2 separate regions of the Homo sapiens genome follow, and region 2 is linked to region 1. Evidence: fine-mapped expression QTL. A gene starts in region 1. The other region holds a variant in brackets. All regions are shown on one strand. Distances are between the middles of the regions.

Region 1 (2,910 bases):
AGGGAACCACAGCAAATGCAAAACCCCTGAGGCTGGATTGTGCCCGTTTCACTCAAACAGCTAGAAAGAGCGCTAGTATGGTGGCAGTGAGTCAGGGGAAGAAGAGGAAGAGATGAGGTCAGAGAAGTGATGAGCCTGTTCTATGCCAAGGCGAGGACTTTTATCTTTGTCAAATATTTCCACTCCCATCATGGCCCGGGAAATCTCACTAATGTAAACCTTACTGAAAATCCTAACTGCTGTGATCAAGGCTGCCATAAAGGGAAGCCCGGAAGAGGCGGGGAGGCTGCCTTGGAACAGGGTAGTGTAAGGATGTGCCAGAAGGCCTGCTGGAGGTTGCAGCCCTTTGAGCTGGACTTGGGGATAGTGTGGTTTTCCAGGCAGAAGGAAGTGAAGGATTAGGTCGGCCTGGTAGTACTTGGCACACAACATGCGCCCAATAAATAAAATGGAAATAAAACCGCGGAGTGTTCTACTTGTGTTGACTGACATCAAAACAAAACAAAAAACCCTCAGAGTGAGGGGAGGCACGGGAGGGGCTGTGCCGGGCAAGAGAGGTGGCAGGAAAATCCAACGCACGGCGCCTATGCAAATACTCGTGTGAGGCAGAAAAGAGGCTCCGCCCCGCTCGAAGTTCCAAGCATGCGCAGTAGCGGCTCCTGCGCCTCTAAGGATCCGCCTCTTTCCTTCTTTCTCAGCCTGGGTTCCACCCCGGGAGGCCCGCTGTATGAGATGGAGGGCGGGCTAAAGGCGGGACGAGACTCGATTGAGCGCAATTATGACCAATCACCTTGCGGAATATTCGGCCTATAGCGAAGGAGGAGCTCAGAACAAAAAGGAGACCCCACCCCCGCCGACGGTGAAAACCTATGAAACCTGGGCGGAGGCGTGCGGAGTCGGGTAGAGAGCGAAATCACGCCTCTTCAGTCAGCCACGCCCTTTATTCTTGCTCGGCCTCGCCACAGAGAGCAAATCAGATTGGCTGGGCGACAACCTCAAAGGGCGGGGCTGCACACGTTCACTACGGGAATGAGGTAGCGGTGGAGGGGGCAGTTGGGCGGGGATAGGCCGTCCTAGCTAAGGTGGTAAAGGCCAATAACTCTTCAGGCTGCCTCTCCTCGAAAAGTCATCTTCTCGCGAACCTTTAAAATGCCTTCCTCCCCAAGCACCTCAAGGGACTAGAACTGAGTGCTTCATTTGTCTTTTTTCCTCCTTGCAAAAGTCCCGTTTGCCACCATGGGGATGTACCAAGTGAGACCGAGTAGGGGGAACGAGTGGTGATTGACGCGCCAGGTTACTGGCCACTGCTCACCTAGGCGCTAGCAAACTTCTGCCAAGATCGGAACTGAGTACTAAACAGCCTCCACAGTTCTCCCTGGTGCCGTCTCCGGCTTGGCGCCGCATCCTCCTCTGGGCTCGCGATGGCCGCGTCCCCTCCCGCTGCGGACGGGTCCTTTGGTACATGCAGTCCGAGGTGAGTCCCCTCCTTTCCACTTCACCCTTCCGAGCGCCTGCGTGCGCATGCGCGGAGCGCGGCGCGCGCGGCGGTTGGGCCGTTGGCTGTTCGGCCCTGGGATCCGCCGCCACTCCGCGATCAGACCGCTCTGTGCCGCGAGCCGCCGTGAGCACTCGGATTCAAGCCGGCGCCAACGAGTCCGGGGGCATCGCCCGCAGCGGCCAAGCTCATGGCCGGCTGAGCGGGACGCCGCCTCCGCCTCAGCCACCGCCGCCGCCGCCGCCTCCTCCTCCTCAGCCGGCGGCGGCCCGGGCCCAGCAACCATGGCTGAAGACTACTGGGACGGGCGCCTGCGGCGAACAGGAGGAGAAGGAGGTCGCGCGGCCTCATCCCGGGCCGCCGCCCCAGGCGCCGCCGCGCCGGCCCCGCGGCTCTGAGGTTGCTCGCGCGCCCCCGCCGGTGAGCGCGTCCCCGAGGCGTGGAGGCTGCCCCTCCTCCTTCAGAACCCACCTCGGGCGGTGCCCAGGGGTCTGGGCTGCGGGGCTGGCAGGTGCCCCCACCCCCGGCGAATTTCCCAGAATGCACCGGGGCGGGGGGTCATTTGGGGCCTCCCTGACCTTGGCCCCGCCCTGGGCCTGTCCTGGGAGCTGGGGTTGGGTAGTGCTGTGGGTGCTAATGGGGACCTGGGGGAGTCAAAGGACCAAAGGGTGTGGAAATGGGTGACAATGGGGTGAAAGACTTGGGGGGGTTGCTGATGGGGGTCGGAGCATGTGGCAGTAAGCCTCACGCCAATAAGTCGTGTAAGGTTCAAGGCCCCGTGTGTGCTTGTGGAAGGAGGGCGGGGTGCGGAGCGGGTGAGGGACCCGAGGGTGTATAACGGGGGGTAGGGTGTCGAGGAAGTTCTAAGACATGCTCATAGGGATTATGTCCGCAGAGAGGCCCGGTGTGTGTTCATGGGGGACAGGGTGGCACAGGTACCAGAACGTGTGTTGGTGGGGTCAGGGCTCTGAGGCCTGGTGCGTGGCGATGAGGCCCTGGATGGTGTTAATACTGCGTGTCTGTCCGTGGGGCCTGCAGTGTGTGAGAATGCAGTGTGTGCTTGTGGAGGGCAGGTAGCTGAAGGACTCGAGTGTGGTGTGTGCGCCAGTGGGGGTCATGGCTGTAGAGGGTGTATGCCTGTGGCCTCGAAGGTCTAGGTAGTTTGGGACCCAGTATATGCTAATGAGGGCAGAGTGGAGGAAGGACCTGAGGGTATCTAACGGAGGAAGGACTGTGGAATACCTGAGCCTGGCCTAAAGGAGATGAGAATTGCGTGTCTGTCTGGGCCCAGGAAGGAGTGGTGGGGAAGTGTCTTAGCACTGTCAGAGGCTTAGTGGACGAAGGGTAAAGGTGATGTGAGGTGTGAGTGTGTCCATGGACACAGGGAATGTGAGTCTCGAGGGCACACTAGGAAG
Region 2 (2,910 bases), 110 kb after region 1:
ACAGTGGTAGGATTTCAAGTCATTAATAATTTTTTCTTTTTTTCTTTTTCTTTTTCTTTCTTTTTTTTTTTTTTTTTTTAATATGGAGTCTTGCTCTGTCACCCAGGCTGGAATGCAGTGGCATAATCTCAGCTCACTGCATGCAACCTCTGCCTCCCAGGTTCAAGTGATTCTCCTGCCTTAGCCTCCCAAGTAGCTGGGATTATGGGTGCATGCCACCACACCCGGCTAATTTTGTGTTTTTAGTAGAGATGGAGATTCGCCATGTTGGTCAGGCTGGTCTCGAACTCCTGACCTCCAGTGATCCACCTGACTCAGCCTCCCAAAGTGCTGGGATTACAGGCGTGAACCATTGCACTTGGCCTTTTTATTTTTATTTTTCTTTCTTTCTTGTTTTTTTTTTTTTTTGAGATAGAGTCTCGCTCTGTCACCCAGGCTGGAGTGCAATAGTGCGATTTCGGCTCACTGTAACCTCTGCCTCCCAGGTTCAAGTGATTCTCCTGCCTTAGCCTCCCAAGTAGCCGGGATTACAGGCGTCCGCCGCCATGCCCAGCTAATTTTTTGTATTTTTAATAGGGATGGCGTTATGCCATGATGGCCAGGCTGGTCTCAGAGTCCTGACCTCAGGTGATCTGCCTGCCTTGGCCTTCCAAAGTGCTGGAATCACAAGCGTGAGACACCGCGTCCAGCCCCAAACCATTTGAAAGTTAGCTGCACACAGTAATACCTTTCAATTCTAAATAATTCTAAATAATTCCCTAATATTCTAAATACTTCCCTAATATTGCTTAATATCCAGTCCATATTTAATTTTCCCCAGTTGTCCTATACATCTTTTTTTTTTTTTTTTTTTTTTTTTTGAGACGAAGTCTCACTTTGTTGCCCAAGCTGGAGTGCAGTGGCGAGATCTCGGCTGACTGCAACCTTCACCTCTCGGGTTCAAGCGGTTCTCCTGCCTCAGCCTCCCGAGTAGCTGGGACTACAGACATGTGCCACCATGCCTGGCAAATTTTTGTATGTTTAGTAGAGACAGGGTTTCACTATGTTGACCAGGCTGGTCTTGAACTCCTGACCTTGTGATCCGCCCCCCTCGGTCTCCCAAAGTGCTGGGATTACAGGCATGAGCCACTGCGCCCGGCTCCCATACATCTTTTATAACTTTTTTAAAACACAAGACTAAGTCCAGGCTCATTTATTCCATACGGTTGCACCTCTTTAGTCTGTTAAACTAAAACAGTGTGTTCATTTTATTTTTATTAATTAATTATTTGTTTTTTCAGACGGAGCCTCCCTTTTGTCATCCAGGTTGGAGTGCAGTGGCACGATATGGCTCAATGCAACCTCTGCCTCCTGGGCTCAAGCGATTCTCTTGCCTCAGCCTCCCAAACAGCTGGGACTATAGGCACCCACCACCATGCCCGGCTAATTTTTGTATTTTTAGTAGAGAGAGGGTTTCGCCATGTTGGCCAGGTTGGTCTCGAACTCCTGACCTCAGGAGATCCACCTGCCTTGGCCTCCCAAAGTGCTGGGATTATAGGCAG[T/C]GTGTTCATTTTAAATATGCCGACCCCCAGCACTTAAAGACGCCTGTAATCCCAGCATTTTAGGAGGCTAAGGCAGGAGAATCACTTGAGTTCAGGAGTTTGAGATCAGCCTGGACAGCATAGTGAGACCCCCTTCAATCTCTACAAAAATAAAAATAAAAATATTAGGCAGGCATGGTGGCAGTGTTTTGTTTTGTTTTGTTTTGTTTTGTTTTTGAGACAAGGTTTCACTCTGTCACCCAGGCTTGAGTGCAGCAATGCAATCTCAGCTCTCTGTAGCCTTGGCCTCCCAGACTCAGATGATCCTCCCATCTCAGCCTCCTGGCAGATCACTTGAGACTGGGAGTTCAAGACCAGCCTGGGCAACATAGCAACACCACCTCTTGATTATAACATTATTACTTTTTGAAAAATGCCACCAGTTCATGTATTTAGACAACTTTATCACTATTGCTCAGGGGAAAAGCCTGTCTTGGTCTAGGAGAATTCCACAGAACATACTTTTATTTGGTAAAGTGGGAAATTCTAGGATCTGGTAGTGCATTAATCTAGTTACCAAAATGATACCACTCATACCACGCTTGGATTAGTAACTTTTCAAATAATTTGGAAACAAACAAAAAAACCGTTTAACATTAAAATTGAAAATAATTCCAACTTTGTTTCACTTGAAGAAGGCGGGTCCCAATCCTGTTGTGTTGCCAGTGTCCACGTTCCAGCTTTTTGCTAATCAACAAAGCCATCCTTTCTGTCTCACAAACTGTTCCCTGGACGTTTCACAATCTTTGTTGCACGCATTAGGGCTTTGTGGGTGATGATAAAAAGGGGATGTTTTGTTTCGTTTTATCATTAGGACCTTTAAAAGAGTAGCAAGTTATTCTGCTGGACTTCCCAAAATGTAGCTGGGAAGAACAATATAGCCGATCAAAAGCTGAAAATTACTTTCAAGGACTCAGGAAGGGAACGTGTGGTACGTGCTGCATGGTATCTGTTAAAATAGCCACTGTGCTGAAATCCCTTTGTGGGGAAAGGTAGAGATTTTTACAAATTCAAGACAAAATGTTACTTCTCTGGGTATGACCACAGTAACAAGGACACAGAAAAATAGGTCAGAACCAGAGGAAAGATGGGGTTATCTGTCCTGAGAATCAAAGCCTCCTATGGATCCTCACTCTGAGAGTGCCTGGGAATAAGAAGCTGAGTTTCATTGACAGCAGCAGGAAGTGCAGAGTGAGAAAAGCAGGAAGAAAGTTCTAGTAGCCACAGAAGTTAGTTGCTTTGACCACGGGCATGATACCAGAATTTCAGAAGTGACAGAAAAAGCAGGCAGACAGATGGCAGAGATGTTTGCTGGAACCCTCAAGCCCTA

Direction of the effects. Positions count from the first base shown, and alleles are read on the strand shown. Sizes are in standard deviations (SD) of each study's normalised expression.
As copies of T replace C in region 2, the expression in tibial nerve of the gene that starts at base 1,491 in region 1 goes up (small effect, 0.18 SD a copy in GTEx).

The links. PIP is the estimated chance that this variant, and not a neighbour inherited with it, causes the effect.
Region 2: its variant is fine-mapped to the expression of CDK16 in tibial nerve (GTEx, PIP above 0.99).

What each region holds. Positions count from the first base shown.
Region 1 is chrX:47,217,191-47,220,100 of GRCh38, forward strand. CDK16 (cyclin dependent kinase 16) reads left to right here and starts at 1,491. Exons shown (of 16, transcript NM_006201.5): 1 at 1,491-1,915. LOC105373194 (a long non-coding RNA gene) reads right to left here and starts at 1,460. Exons shown (of 3, transcript XR_949047.4): 1 at 1,313-1,460. RefSeq lists silencers at 825-934, 1,635-1,794, 1,815-1,924, 1,935-2,004 and enhancers at 1,125-1,244, 1,365-1,434, 1,578-2,217.
Region 2 is chrX:47,324,816-47,327,725 of GRCh38, forward strand. No RefSeq gene overlaps it. Among named protein-coding and RNA genes, the nearest start is that of ZNF157, 44 kb to the right of the region's middle. The variant T/C (reference allele first, on the strand shown) is at 1,542.